Linked DNA regions of Homo sapiens. The protein of the gene in region 1 interacts with the protein of each later gene in a biochemical or structural test. Each region holds a gene or a part of one and is shown on either strand. Other genes may lie near its edges.

The links. Proteins that work in one complex are often made in the same cells at the same time.
Region 2: of the proteins of ASB9 (region 1) and CKMT1A, one has a biochemical effect on the other in vitro, tested with the Homo sapiens proteins (one study listed by BioGRID).

The regions. Positions count from the first base shown.
Region 1 is NC_000023.11:15,259,872-15,267,427, forward strand, and holds part of ASB9 (ankyrin repeat and SOCS box protein 9), read right to left. Parts: intron 1-7,556. UniProt on the Homo sapiens protein: Substrate-recognition component of a cullin-5-RING E3 ubiquitin-protein ligase complex (ECS complex, also named CRL5 complex), which mediates the ubiquitination and subsequent proteasomal degradation of target proteins.
Region 2 is NC_000015.10:43,688,835-43,697,358, reverse strand, and holds the start of CKMT1A (creatine kinase U-type, mitochondrial isoform 1 precursor), read right to left. Parts: upstream 3,501-8,524; 5' UTR 3,309-3,500; coding exon 3,160-3,308; intron 2,833-3,159; exon of another isoform or gene 2,649-2,832; coding exon of another isoform or gene 2,556-2,648; coding exon 2,357-2,555; intron 2,154-2,356; coding exon 2,058-2,153; intron 1,672-2,057; coding exon 1,450-1,671; exon of another isoform or gene 1,449-1,449; intron 1,321-1,448; coding exon 1,235-1,320; exon of another isoform or gene 1,231-1,234; intron 1,120-1,230; coding exon 996-1,119; intron 1-995. UniProt on the Homo sapiens protein: Reversibly catalyzes the transfer of phosphate between ATP and various phosphogens (e.g. creatine phosphate).

The sequences.
Region 1 (7,556 bases):
CATAAATGCATTTCGTGTTTAGACTTGAGTACCATCCACAAGATAAGTCATTATGTATATGCAAATATTCCAACATCTGAAAAAACTGGAAACACTTCTGGTCCCAAGGATTTCAGAGACGGGATGCTCAACCTGTACTTACCATGGCTCAACACATACTAGCTACTATTATTATCCTGCCCTAACACTAAACAGAGAGTCTTAATTATACCTCATCATCATTGCTATTTAAAATAGCAAATTTACACCAGGCGTGGTGGCTCACACCTGCAATCCCAGCACTTTGAGAGGCCGAGGTGGGCAGATCACCTGAGGTCAGGAGTTCGAGACCAGCCTTGCAACATGGTGAAACACCATCTCTAGTAAAAATGTAAAAATTAGCTGGGTGTGGTGGCTCACGCCTATAATCCCAGCTAGTCGGGAGGCTGAGGCGGGAGAATCGGTTGAACCCGGGAGGCGGAGGTTGCAGTGAGCCGAGATCATGCCACTGCACTCCAGCCTGGGTGACACAGTGAGACTCTGTCTCAAAAAAATAAAATAAAATAGCAAATTTATTCTACAACCACATAGAAGGAAAACAAATTCTTAGGAAAGAAGCCTGAAAACCCAATCCCAACCCATTAAATGCTTTCCTCTCTCTTAATTGAATATAACTGAATGAGGCATAGATCTGATTTTTTTCTCATCTCAAGCTTCATCTGATTTCCAGTAGAAATGTGAGGGAGGCGTGCCTGAACCTGCTTCAGCTCCAGCTCCACCTGCTTCGCCAAACACACTACATACAAACAAGGTAGAAAGGTCTGGTGCCAGTTATGCCTTGCACGGAAGCTAATAGCTCCTAAAAACTGAGAAGACCTGGAGAAGGAGGATACTTAACTATCTATACCTTGCAAACTGAAAGGCTATGAAGTATCCTTTGTATTTAACACATGTTGGCTTAACACTTTGTACTTAACACATGAGGCCCGTCTGTCTGCCACCTGAAGCCATCAGTGCCCTGGAAAATCTGTATTAGTAAGCAAATTACCATTCTTCCAGATGGATTCATTAAGCATTTAGTACATAAAAGGAAGACAAATGAGCCCATCTACATACCGCCCATCCAATGCTTTCCTTCTGGGGTCACTAAAGGTGCTTGAGACAAGGTACATCTTAAGTGAAATGGCTTTTCGTACCGTCAAAACCTCACGCTTAATAGATACTCAATGTCCTCACGGCATTCTCTGAGGCTCCTAATTATTTCTGGAATAATACTGCTGATTCTAGGGCTTGGAAGCTAAAATTCGGACTGCAGACATGGAAAGATTGATCTCCAAATTAGAATTAAAAGGACAACTAATTCCACCCTGTTGGTGCTGATAATGCCAAATACCATTCACACAAAATCTTGAATGAGAACAAAGAGCCACAAATTGAGAAAGGTTTTGAAAATCAGTTTTCAATAGATTTGCAAATGTATCTTGATGGATCACCATATGTATGATGATTAATCCACTTTTTTTTCCAAGTGCTCAGCTGCTAAGAAATACAGCTGCCACATTCCCCAACCTCTCTTAGAGCTCCCTAAGATTATTATTGTCGACAGGCTAAACAGTCCAGGCAGGTAGATTGCATCCTAATTTGTAACTGTCCAGATTTCATAAAAATGACGCATTTATCAAGTGTAGCCACAAATGGTCTTACTTTCTGCTCATTCATCATGGGACCATTACTCTTTCTATTTGGGGCAAATAAAGAAGTACGTACTTCTCCAAGAGAATAACAAGGCTATCTGAATTTGCACCTCTGCAGAATGTAGTGTTTACAGAGCAGAGACAGCTTGTGTCTTTGAGAAGTACAGAGTGTTGTCCTGGTACACGTAGTGAGGGGCTGACAATGTGAATATCTCTAGCTAGCTAGCTAGCAAGCAGCTGTATTGAGATATAATTCACATACCATACAATACACCCATTTAATGTGTACAATTCAGCAGTTTTCAGTATATTCAGAGCTATGCAACCAACACCACAATCAATTTTAGAACATTTTCATCACCCCAAAAAGAAACTCTGTGCCCATTAGCAGTCACTCCACAGTTCTACTTCCCTCAGCCCCTGGCAGCCATGGATCTACTTTCTGTCTCTATGGATTTGCCTATTCTGGACATTTCATATAAATGAAACCATACAGTATGTGGTACTTTGCAACTGGCTTCTTTTATTTAGCATGTTTCAAAGTTTCATCCATGTTGTAGCGTGCATCAGTACTTCATTCCTTTTTTTTTTTTTTTTGGCCAAATAATTCCATTGTATGGATAAGCCACATTTTATGTATTCATTCATCAGCTGATAAAAATTTGTGTCATTTCTACTTCTTGCCTATTATGAATAATGCTGCTATAAACATTCATATACAAGTTTTTGAGCAGATATATGTTTTCAATTCTCCTGAATATGCACCTAAAAGAATTGCTGTATGATATGGTAACACAATGTTTATTTTGAGACTGTTTTCCAAAGTGGCTGCCCTACTGTATGTTCCCATCAGCAGGATATGAGGCTTCCCCTTCTAACATAAAGTCATTTCAGTTCAGGGTTTGTTAAGCCTGTCACAGTATGCCTATGCTCCTGCCCAGAAGAAAAACGTGAGTCCCTGTAAAACTAAAATCCATCTCAAATTTATACAAGGACTTTGACCTCAGCAGGTATCAGAACAAATGAGTGATTATGTGAAAATTTACAGTAGTGACAATTAATAATTTAACATTTTTCTTTGTGTGTAATGTTCTGTTGGTTTTTTGAGACGGAGTCTCATTCTGTCACCCAGGCTGGAGTACAGTGGGGCAATCTTGGCTCACTGCAACCTCCACCTCCTGGGTTCAAGTGGTTCTCCTGCCTCAGCCTCTCAAGTAACTGGGACTACAGGTGCACACCATCACACTCAGTTAATTTTTGTAACTTTAGTAGAGACAGGATTTCACCATGTTGGCCAGGCTGGTCTCCAACTCCTGACCTCAAGTGATCCATGCGCCTCAGCCTCCCAAAGTGCTGGGATTATAGGCATGAGCCACTGCGCCTGGCCTAGTTTAACATTTTTCTAACATTCAGAGAGCATAGATTGTGTGTATGTGTGTGTGTATTAGCAAGAACTTATCTTTCTTTTAAATTGTACCCTCATCAAACCTGGAGCACATTAGGGAGGCTGCCATTTCATTTTTATTGTAATTTGTGGAACATTTTTTTCATTTCCATTATTTCAAAAGAGATTTAAGATGCACTAATTGCTACATGCTGAAAATAGCTATTACTGATGTTCTGAGAACCCCAGTGAATGCTGGGCGGTAGCATAAATCTACTCATCCTGAGAAACGTTTTGCAAAGTCAAGGAGACAAAAAAGAAGTCGGGTTGCTCTGAGGGGACAGGAGTATTTGCCTTCAGTCTTCAGGACACAATAAGGGTGGATTCAGTGGCATGAACCAACCTGCCAGAACCTGGAAAGTATCTGGGTGCTGTATTCACAATTATTGTGGACCTTGGTTTGATCCCAGGACAAACAGAAAGAGGAGAAAAAGAAACAAGAGGCTTACAGTCAGAAACAAACAGAAAGGCCCACTGAGGCAACTCTTGGGCAAGTCAGGCCTGTCCACTGCAGTTCTTTCTCCAGTTCCATCATCCAGCCTCTCCTCTCCTCTTTCTTCTCTCTCTTCTCTCTCTTCTCTTTCCTGTCTCCCTCTCTCTTCTCTCTCTCTCTCTCTCTCTCAATATAAAGCTGCCTTCTCCAAAGGGCCCTCACATTATCACCCATTCTGTCTCAACAGGCAGGTTTTCCCCCAGAAAACTCACCCCTCCTGAGGTGCCCCAATATCTAAAAATTCACCATAAGACAATAAAATTGTTTTCTTTCAATACCTGTTCTAGCTTGTCTTCTGTTTAAATGTGAATACTCTCTACAGGGTGGGCTCAATTTTGCAAGGATAGAAATATCTCTACAGTTGTCAGTCTTCAGGCAAAACCCCAAAAGATAGACACTAACACTGGGAACAGTGATTACCTGCTTGGTGGAATTATGGGTGGTTAGTTTATCCTTCAATGTATTTTCCTAAGTTTCTATGAGTAGGTATAAATTAGCCTCCTAGGGATACCATAACGAAACACCACAAACTGGGTGGCTTAAAACAACAGAAATTTGTTGTCGCCGAGTCCTAGAGGCTAGCAGTTGGCTAGAAGTCTGAAATCAAGGTGTGGACAGGGCCATACTCTATCCAAAGGCTCTAGGGAAAAATCCTTCCTTGCCTCTTCTAGCTTCTGGCAGTGGCCATCAGTCCTTGGTGTTCCTTGGTTTCTAGATGTGTCACTCCTATCTCTGCCTCTGTTGTCACATAGCATTCTCCATGTGTCTCCTTCTCCTTTTCTTATAGGGACTCTGGTCATGTTGGATTAAGGTCCATCCTACCCTACTTACGACCTCACCTGAACTAATCTTAACTAATAAGGTCACATTCTGAGGCACGGGGGTTAAGAACTTAACCATATATATTTTCAGGGTACACAATTTAACTCGTAACAAGCTACTTTCAGGAAAAAATTAAGACATTCTTTCCCTGCTCCTTGGACAGGAGAGTCTAACATGAAACAAATCTCTATAAAGAGTTGGTTGCCCATTTTTATAGCCTTTCCTCCCTCCCTACCCCCAGGGAAGTGGGCAGAAAAACGCCTGCAGGTGGAGGTGGGAGCAGCAAGATGATCCACACCTGGGCCCTATTTTCCCCTCTAACTTGGCCTTGTGCAAAGGGACAAGCTTCACCTGAGCTGAGTTTCTTGGCACAGCTATTTGAAAACAGCATTCTGAGTGTTCCCCATTCCACACTTCACCAAGGTTAAGACCTCAGAAGCATAAACAAAAGCAACCAACTACAATTGAGGTTTTACCCAAGGGGCAGGACTGATGCAAAGCAGACGGAGAATGACTCCACTTGAGTAGGGAGAGGTGGAAAGTCTAGGAGGGCTTCATGGGGGCAATGGCTCAGCTGGGTGTAGAAGGTGAGTAGCAATTTGCCAGTCAGATTCACAACAGGAGGTAAGAAACCAGAAGTATCCAGGCACCTACCCTTGTGACTTCTACTTCTTTGAAAACTTCTCTTCCCTTAGCACCTGTGTAATTACAACATCCAGAATCTCTTTCTGCTTCTCTGTCCAACTTACTGGTCCTACTTCATCAACTGGAGGCCTGTCCCAGGGTTCCATCCTTGGTTGACTCTCAGCTCTTAGCCATTGGACAATTTCTCCCTTCCCTAGGTTTCAACCACAGCCCCTCTGTAGGACATTCTGAGGTATCTGGCTTCTAACCTGTGATCGTTCCTAAGTCTCAGTCCCATGTCATCATACTGTGCACTGGGCATCATTGTTAGCACTATCATGTCCAAAACAGAACTCTGTATCCTCCCCTCCTCATCCTGCATCCAAGGCAACTTCCTTTCCAACTTCCCTCTTATCTAGCTTATCTGACATTACTTTGGGCTTGAGAACCTTATAATTTTGCCTGCCTTCTGTTAGTTCCAACATTTAATCAAGCAACATACGCTGATTTATCTTTCCTTTGAAATCATCGCCCTTTCTCTGTCATTTCCAAAGTTCGATCCAAATGTAAGTTTCATGGTTGGATTAGTGCAGTAGTTTTCAAAGTATGGTCCCTGACCAGTACCATCCATTTCACCTGGGAGTTTGTTATGAATGCAGATTCCTAGGCCCCCACCCCAGGCCTACGACTTCATCAAAAGCTGCATCATCTGCATTTTTTTTTTTTGAGACAGAGTCTCGCTCTGTTGCCCAGGCTGGAGTACAGTGGCATGATCTCAGCTCACTGCAACCTCCGCCCTCCCAAGTTCAAGCAATTCTCCTGCCTCGGCCTCCTAAGTAGCTGGGACTACAGGCATGTGCCAACACACCCAGCTAATTTTTTTTTTTTTTTTTGAGACAGAGTTTCACTCTTGTTGCCCAGGTTGGAGTGCAGTGGTGTGATCTCGGCTCACCACAACCTCTGCCTCCCGGGTTCAAGCGACTTTCCTGCCTCAGCCTCCCGGGTAGCTGGGATTACAGGCATGCACCACCATGCCCGGCTAATTTTGTATTTTTAGTAAAGACTGGGTTTCTCCATGTTGGTCAGGCTGGTCTGGAACTCCCAACCTCAGGTGATCCGCCTGCCTCGGCCTCCCAAAGTGCTGGGATTACAGGTGTGAGGCACTGCACCCAGTCAAATGTTTGTATTTTTAGTAGAGATGGGGTTTCACCATGTTGGATAGGCTGGTCTGGAACTCCTGACCTCAAGTGATCCGCCCACCTCAGCCTCCCAAAGTGCTGGGATTACAGGCGTGAGCCACCGTGCCCAGCCAGAAGCTGCATTATCTGTATTTCAATAAGCTCTCCAGGTGATGTAGAGGCACATGAGAATTTGAGAACCACTGGATGAATGCAACCATCTCCCACGATTCCAACACAATCTATCCCAGCTGTGGCTACCATGTTAATTGACCTACAGCCTTATTACCAGGTCTCTGTTCTAGAACCACCAATGGCTCTCAATTTCCTGCCTCATGAAGCCTGACCTCCTCCACTTAGCTCTTCAAGCTTTATCTGCCACTCCATCTCTTCAAACTTGTTCTCACTAGACTCCCTAAGACATTCACATTTTGCACTCTAGCTGTAAAAACTTGTTGACTTTACAAGCACCATGCCTTTGCGTATAACACCTGCCCACTCCCACTCACCCACCCTGACCCCACCAGGGTTGTATTAGGAACTTTAGAAATCCTGAACAGTTGGCTCACGCCTGTAATCCCAGCACTTTGGGAGGCCAAGGTGGGTGGATCACGAGGTCAGGAGATTGAGACCATCCTGGCTAACATGGTGAAACCCCGTCTCTACTAAAAATACAAAAAATTAGCCGGGCGTGGTGGCGGGCGCCTGTAGTCCCAGCTACTCAGGAGGCTGAGGCAGGAGAATGGCGTGAACCCGGGAGGCGGAGCTTGCAGTGAGCCAAGATTGTGCCACTGCACTCCAGCCTGGGCGACAGAGCGAGACTCCATCTCAAAAAAAAAAAAAAAAAAGAAAAAGAAACCCTAACAGTGAAAAGTGGCTGGTGCCTCTCTCCCATGTGGAAACAAAAATAAATACAATACTTAGCTATAAAATAACCGTGCAGAAGTCAACCAAATTACCGATTCTTTCCCATAATGATTGGTTTGCTGTTTTAAAAATATATTTATCGGCCGGGCACAGTGGCTCACACCTGTAATCCTAGCACTTTGGGAGGCCGAGGCGGGCAGACTTCCCTGAGCTCAGGAGTTGGAGACCAGCCTGGGGCAACATGGTGAAACCCCGTCTCTACTAAAATACAAAAAAAAAACACCCCAAAAAATTAGCCAGGCGTGTGCCTGTAGTCCCACCTAGTCCCTGCCTCTCCCTCCTGAGGCAGAATTGCTTGAACCCAGGAGGCCGAGGTTGCAGTGAGCCGAGATGGTGCCACTGCACTCCAGCCTGGTAACAGAGCGAGACTCCATCTAAAAAAAAAATATATATAT
Region 2 (8,524 bases), on another chromosome or scaffold:
TGTAGTTCAGAAGGAACCATGCCACCAGGGATATCTTATGTGCTGAACATGGGGGGAAACTCTTCCATCCAGAATAATATTGCAGCTAACACTTTAACACTTATTAAGCACTTACTGTGGACCAAGTACTTTACCTGTATTTCACTTAATCCCCACAACAACCTAAAATGTAGAAAATCTCATTATCCCAATTTTACAGATGAGGAAACTGAGGCATATAATTTAAAGGTACTTCCCTACCCACTCATAGTCAGAATATGTTATCTATTACTTGCCAAAAATAGTAGAAACTTCTCAGAATCTAAAAGAGGAGCTCTTTTTCTTTGCAAACCTAAAATAGAACTGTATGTTTGAGAACATACAGTAAGAATTGAATTGAGTTTATGGGGATTTCTAATGTAGACTTGAATACGGAGACCCAATCCATGTAGGATTGATGATTCAGTTCAACCTCTCATCTAGAGCCACATATTCTAGAACTCGAACCATTCTATCCTCCACCTTCCCCAGTCTCCCTCTGAACTCTCAACTTAAAGCCTAGACCCGATACTTTAACAAGAATGATAGAATCCAGAGTCAAGGCCTACCTTGTCTCAGAACTGGGTGGTTATATTAGAGTCATGAACACAGCAACCTCTCCCCGCCAACATCAATCTAAGCTCGAATGTTTTCCTTATCTGCACACCTCACCATCCCACTGCACACATCCCAGGCACTGACGTGCCATCTCAGTTATTCCTTCTTTGCATTACCTGCCTTCTTCACTTTCTAAGGTTCCTGACACTCTTTTCCTAATCTTAGTGTGACCACATGTCCTGGTTTTCCCAGTATGGTCCCAGCTGGTTTATACCTTTAGTCCTAGAGTGAGTCCTAGGTAGTCCTTTTTACCATCAGACATGTCTTGGGTTGGTTGATAAATTACATAATCTATTTATGCTACTCTTTGGTTTTCCTTATGTCCTCCCACCTAGCTCCCCTACACAATCTTCTCTAACCTCTTTGAGGCCTCGGCAGAATCTTTCAAACACTCTCTTCATGTTACCACCCTTCTCCATGGAGATCACCCGTGTATGATCCTCCTCATTCACCCAGATCAGGAAGCTCTTCTCATTGTTGTGCCTGAGGGCCGGAGAGGGACAGTGATCAAGAGGCAAGGCAAGAATTGGGAGAGATAGAGGGAAAAAAAGCATTTATGAGGGCATGAAGACAAAAGAGGTAATGAGCAGCTTCATACCAAATTCCACGAGCATCTGGCCAGTCTCGAGCCATTCCTGCTGCAGTCAGCAACGGGGACACAGGCTTATCAAACAGAAAGTGGTCCTGGGAAGAGTAACGGGACTTGGGTTAAGAATCTTCATGGTGGCCCCTGGGCCTTTCAGAGCCCATGTCTCATCTGGCCCAGCCTTCCCCATCTGCTCCCACCAACCAGCACCCTCTTAAGGCCCTCACATCAATAAGCTGCTGCTGTTCAGCCTCTGTCATCTCACTGAGCCTATAGTAACGTCCAGCCAGGTCACCCTTCAGGCCACTCAGTGCATCCACCACAACACGTTCCACCTCTCGTCGCTCTGCTCGAGTGCAAGCTGGAGGCAGACTGAGTCCTCGGATGCTTCGGCCAGTTCTGACTCTAGAGGACAATACATACCTCTCATCAAAGTAGCCAGAACGGATCTGGGAGATAAGGGAAATGAATGTAAGTCACAGAAACACGGTGGGAACTGAGGGCCCCTGGGAAAGGAGAGACCTTCCTTAGGCATTAGAGGACTCTTTGTGCATTCTTCCTGCATGCATTGGAAGAAGAGGCCCTTTGGGAAAGCACTGGAATTGAAGGGGGCATTGCAGACCTTTCCCCAAACCACCCACCTTGGGTCATGGTCATTCTTATCTATCCTTCCATCTCCATATATGCTGCCCCTTAAGATATGATTCTTTCCTTACATTAAGATTAAAAGCTCAGCTGTATAATGACCATGAGTCAGGAAATAAGGTGAAGGGGTTGGAGATACAGAGTGTTGTACACAGGCAATGCAAATCAGAAGTGGGATATTTGAACTCACTTTACTGGCATCTAGATCCGTGGTGTGCTTCATTGTCCGGGGGTCATATCCATTGTGTCGCTCTTGGATCACAGGGTCAAACAGGTCAGCAAATACCTAAGGGGAGTTAAGAGGGAGAGATGGTTAAGGAGAGGGAATCCCTCCCCAGACTTCAATTGTGCATTGATTTCACTGGTTCAGAAAACTTAAGTATGGGGGGCTCAGAGTCTTGGGGGAAAGTGAGAGGTCTTTAGGGGAAAGGAGCTGGGATTACTGGGAAGATGAATTGGATCATCAGGGAGACTCTGGGGACCCCCTACCTCATAGGTCTCCTCATCTCCAGCCACCATGCCCACAGTCTTGATGAAGGGGTGGCCAGGGTTGTCCACGCCAGTCTGGATACACTGATCTAGCGTCCAACCAGTGGGTGTGGTCTTGTCGCAGAGCCGTGCATAGACTGCTGGGGTCAGGTGACTGGCCATGCAGTTGTTGTGCTTTCGGAGGTCTGGGTACTCAGCGCTGGGGAGGGGGTACCCAGTAACCATGGAGGGAGGGCACAGACGCCTAGACCTAGTGCAGTTACCTGGGAGCTGTCCAGTTGGCCATGTCTGGCTTTGCTCCGCGGGAGGAGGGGGAATTAGAAAGAGGGTAAACCTTGGTAATCTCTTTAGGGACTTTCAGAGTCTATGCTTTCCTAATAGTTCTAGTTGCCTCTGGCTGGCCAGCTCAGTTTCTTCAGATCTGCTCAGTTCTTTCCTCCCATGACACAACACTACGGATGGAGGAGGGGAAAAGCCTAAGGAGAGGAATTGAGGAAATGAGGGAAGGAGATGGAGGGGAGCGAAAAGGATAGTTCCTGGCTTTACAATTAGGGATTTGGGCAGCCAGTGCAGCTAGAACTCGTAGGGCCAGAGCTGGTCTTGGCAGGTCCCCAGGAATGTTCTTGCTTTATGGTTTTGGCCCCCACCCCCACCCCACTGAGGTCTGCAGACTGCACAGCCCTCCAGCTCCAGGGCCTTCGTGATTATAGCCCTTCTCTGTTGCCCGGATTCTCACTTCTACCCGCACCTTCGTTCCCATCACCTCCTGCCCCCGCCTCCTCCCGCGCCTCAGGCACTGTTACCTCGGGGGATACAGCCTCCGTCGTTCACTGGCAGCTCGTACAGGTTCCGGTCGGAGCAGAAACCCAGCGGCTAGAGACCCCGCTCCGGCCAAAGCCAGGAGCCTGAGTCCCGGGCGGGCGGACAGCAGACGGGAGAAGGGACCAGCCATGGCTTGAGGTCTGGCTACGGGATCCTGGAGTAGGCGCTGGCGCAAGATAAGATCCGGAACAGGGAGGGAGGATGCAACCGGATAGACCGAGGGCCGGAGCTAGGTCCGAGGCTGCAGCCGAAATGGGGGTCGGATTGGAGGCTGGAGCCGGAATGGGAGCCGGTGCCAATCAGACTGCAGGAGAGGCGCAATGAGCTAGTGGCAGGCGGGCGGGCGGAGGAGAGGGAGGCCCCAGCCGCAGTCTCCAGGGGTGGGGCTCCCCCAGGCCCCGCCTTCCCGCCTGCCACCGCGCTAGGTGCGCGAGGGCAGGGGTGGGCAGCACCCGCCAGGTAATTAGCGGGACCTGAGACTCGCGCGTCTAAAGCCGGGGATGTAGCCCCCTCCCGCCCCGGGGATGTGGCCGCCCAGATTTCAGCACCAAGTGGAGGACAGCACCCACGTGGACTAGCTGAACCCAACACCCTTCCCCCACACCCCTCGGTTTAAGCTGAAACTCGATCCGTCTACCCTGTGGGTGTGCAAGGGTGACACTGCCCAACCTTTCCTCTGCTTTCGGCCTGCCCCAGCCACCTCTTCGGTCTCCCGGGGGCAGCCGCGGGGAAACCGCGGAATAAACACAGATACCAGAGGAGGATATGGAGAAAGCACAGGGTTAGAGGCAGGCACTGGGAAAGACACCCACTGGCTCAAGGTCACCTTTTCCTTAGAACCAGGAAGAGGAGCAAGGTGCTTCCTTGCCACCTCTGTGCACGCCTTACAAAGTTGAGAAAGGACTCCCTGGGAGGAACCAAGGAAATATTAATTCTTATGCCATCTGTGCTGTGTCCTCCACCTCCATTCTGCACCCAAGTCTGAAGCCCTGTTATTTCCTGCCTCTGCTTCTCATGATCCCCCACTTTTTGTTTTCCTTTTGTCTCTCCCACTTTCCTCCACGTCCCCTACCTCACCTTTGATCTTTTACTTCTCTGCGTCTTTTCCAGGCTCAGATGTGTTTGCTGCTCACAGGATGCCCTCTGCGTTTTCTCGGCAAGCTTGCCCACCTGTTGGTGGTGCTGGGTGTGGGGGTGGGCAGGGAATCGTTAGTTTCCTCCTCCTCCTCTCCCTTGGCTTCTCTCTCCGTAGTTCCTAGTTCCTGTGCTGGAGGAGAAGGTAAAGTGAGGTGAAGGGTGTGGTGAGATGACTGGGTGTGGGACTGGAACAGGCAGGCACAGGTCTCCAGACACCACATGTGTTTCCTCTCTTGTCTCCCTAATGCTGTTTAATCCAGAGAGTAAAGGCGAGTGGTGTACAAAGGCATGAGGTGGTCAGGGAATCTCTGCCTTCCTCGTGGTCCCCTCTGCTGCTCTCTCTCTCCTCGTGAAACACATATTCAGATTTGAGAGGGCTTTGTTTCCCAGCTCCAGGTATGATTTGACCTTTGTCCTGGTAGCAAGGAGAATGAATGCTAGAGTTGAAATAGAGATGAGGGGCTTCAGCGTGGAGGGTCAGTTAAGGTGGAGTAGCACCGTGGCATTAGTCCCTTCCCTCTGCTATCCTGGTGTACCCACAAGACAGATACTTGGAAATCTTAACAGAGAGTATTTGGGAAAGAGAATTCCCTTTACATAGAAAATTCCCCCATATTACTCTCATTCCCTTCATTCTCCTTAGGCCTTCCTTGTGTCCTTTTATTCTACCTTTGTCATTTGTGGGTATTCTTAGAAGTGTCCACTTCTCTCTTGGGTCCATCCCTTCTTCTTCTGGTAAGACATCAATTATTAGAGAACAGAGTTATGCAGCTGTAGTGTGGAAAATGTTACCTGTGTTGTGGGGCCTCTTTACCTAGGTTGAAAAGTAGCCATGAGTAAATAAATATAATTTCTTAGAATAGCGTGTATTTATCCAGATAAATAGGGAGATAATCTTCCAGAGCAGTAGGGTTGCTATTTGATTGAGAGGGTGTTACTAAGGAATAGGAAGTGGGAAGAGATAATTACCGAAGGAGAAATAAGACAGCCAGAGGAGTAGAGAAATTACCCAAGTTTAGAGAGTAGCTTCCCAAATGTGAACAATAATTCCACTGAGAAAACACATGTACTTATGCACTTTTCTTATCCCTTGTGTGCCTTTTACAAGCACATAATATATTAATGCTCATTTAAAAAATTATTTTGCAGCATATGGAAGTAATCAATATATGGTATTGTTATATGGTATTTCATTTATTTAATAAGAATTATTGTTGTCAATAGTATTTAATATTTTTAAAGCACTTTACAATTACAAGGAACTTTTATATGTATTATTTCATTGAGTTGAATTGGATTGTTCCAATGATTACTGGGGACAGAGTCTACATTTTCATGGGGATAGTAAGGGGAGTTAAATACCTGGAAGATGCTGTAATAGCTAGTTTGAAGGGCTAGAGTGGTGGAGGGGGTATGAGCCTGAGCATGAACTAGGGAGGCATCTATTCCTCTTAGAATAATCTATTCAAGCCATTAGAATCATTTCTATGTCCATTCAGGAGGCCTTGTGGGGTCAGTACAATGAGGCACGACTGGAAAAGTGGCAAGACCCCTAATATTGCAGAGAAGGAAAAGGGAACAACTGTCTTGACCAGGGAAACCCAAGTGAAGATGCGAGGATAATAAGAGCAATAACATATACAATACAAAATGCTTTCATATTATCAGTACCTTTAAGTGAGGTGTTTTGTTGTTGTTGTTTTTTGAGACAGGGCCTCGCTCTGTCACCCAGGTTGGAATGTAGTGAGGTGATCTTGGCTCACTGCAAACTCCATCTCCCAGGCTCAAGTGATCCTCCCGCCTCAGCCTCCTAAGTAGCTGGGAGCACAGGCATACGCCACCACACCTGGCTAGCTTTTGCATTTCTTGTAGAGACAGAGTTTCATCATGTTGACCAGGCTGGTCTTGAACTCCTTGCACTCCAGCGATCTGCCCGCCTCGGCCTCCCAACGTACTGGGATTGTAGGCGCGAGCCACTACAATTGGCCTTAATTAGGTTTTTGGGGGGTTTTTTTGGGTTCTTTTTTTTTTTTTGAGAAGGAGTCTGGCTTTCTCACCAGGCTGGGGTGCAGTGGCGCCATTTCGGCTCACTGCAGTCTCCACCTCCCGGGTTCAAACGATTCTCCTGCCTCAGCCTCCCGAGTAGCTGGGATTACAGGTGCGCACCACCACACTCGGCTAATTTCTGTATATTCAGTAGAGACGGGGTTTCACCATGTTGGCCAGGATGATCTCGACCTCCTGACCTAGTGATCCGCCTAACTTGGCCTCCGAAAGTGCTGGGATTACAGGCGTGAGCCACCGAGCCCAGCCCTAGGTTTTTAATCCTATTTTTATGGATGAGAAAAATAAAGGCTCAGAGAAATTAAGTGAGTCGCTCAAGGCTGCACAGCTATTAGAGGTAAGGCCAGGATTCAAATCCAGCTTTGTCTGGAGCATAGAGAAAAAGCAGGCTGTGGAGATAGGAATCAATTTGTCTAGAGTTCCAGGTCCATCCACTTTCTTGCCTCCTCTGTAAATGTCTCTCTGTTCCTTCCCTTAACTTTCTTATCTGCTTCTCTCCTTGTCTCTTTTTTGTCTCCAGTCTCCCTATCAGTCCTCTTTACATCTGTTAAAATTTTCAACCTTTATTTATTGGATCTGTACATATATGAGACCCTGTTTTGTCTCATAAGACAAAGGGAAGACCTGGTTTTTGCTCTGAAGGAACAGCAATGGCACAAACTCTGCCTCTTCCTCTTTCTCAGCATGAGGCTTCCCACCCACCCCGTCGTCTCATGAAACGTCTCTGTCTAGACCACGCTTCTGGACTTTGGCGACACACTAAGAAATCAAAGGAAGGGAGCATCAAGTTGCATTCCCTCCCAGAGCCACTAGGGGTCACGCTCCTCCGCGCAGAAGCGCCGGCCAACGCAGCCTGACTCTGTTACCGGTGCGCGCCCTTCGCTGATTGGTGGAACCGCAAAGAAGTCGCGCTTTGATTGGGCCGCTGTCAGGTGTCGCTGCCTGCAGGTTCGGCTGCGCGAGCGGAGGGAGGCGGGTGAGTGAAGGCCGGGGGCGGTGGGGGAGTGGCTGGGGCTGGGGGCGGTATCGGACCGGGTGGGCGCGGTAGAGTGGGCTTGGTGGGTTCCCAGGGCTGGGGTTCGTTCCGGGTGGGCTCCGCTTTGGGAAGAGGCCCAGCGGAGGGGCCTTAGTGTCAGCGTAGGGAGAGTGAGGCGGCGAAGGCGGGGGCGGGCAAAGGCTAGTGGAGTCGGGATGCGAGGGCGGTATTCGTGACCCGGAGCTGTGCGAGGAGAGTACCGAGGAGGGGGTCGGCGGGAGAGGAGATAGGTATGTGGGGGTCTGCGTGAGGAAGAGGGGGTCCTGTGGGAGGATGGAGGAGCGGAGTCGTACAGGGGAGAGGATCAAGGTGGAAGGGATCTGCGCCAGGAGGGGTGGGGCTGGAGTCCAGGAGGAAGGGGGTAGCTTGAGGAATGGGTTGCGGCTGAGAGAAGACAGCCTGGAGGGAGGGGTGATGTGAGGAAAGAATGGATGGCAGGTCGTCATTGTGGGGGGTCACTGAGGGGTCAATATAAAGATGTTACCAAGTATGATGACTCGTGCGAGAGGGTGAAGGAGTTTAATACTGGGCAATCAGTGAGTGCGAGGATTAGTTGGATTAATGGAATTAGTTGACCAATGATGCGGGGTGGGATGGGGAGGCTGCAGTCAGTATTGGGGCAAGAGTCATAGCAAGTTGGGGAAAGAAGGCGAAACGAAGCAGCTGATACTGAGAACAGGGAGAGGAGCACAGTTGATCAGAGTCGGAATGAGGAGTGTGTCTGAAGAATTAAAAATTGCATTAAGAAGGAAGTGAGGCGTCCACTGTTCAAGGTGGGCAGAAAATAGTGTTGGTGGCCTGAGGAGTTTTTCTGTGTTGGAAGTATTCCTGCCTGGAATTTGTATTGATATTTCCTCTTCGCTACCAATGGAGTCCACCATCAAGTGCATAGTGATTTAGGAAATTAGATGACTATGCAAGGAGCCCTAAATTCTAAGGGTTAAAGAAGTTACACCGTTTACCCTCCCTTCTACCCCTTCTCCAGATCTAACATAGATGTTCCTGAGAAGATTGCCTGCCTGCCCCTCCCTCGTTACCTTACTCGCCTATCTCCTTGCTTCTTTCCTTCCATTCACATTGATTCCTGTCAGAGTAAGACTGCCCTTTAG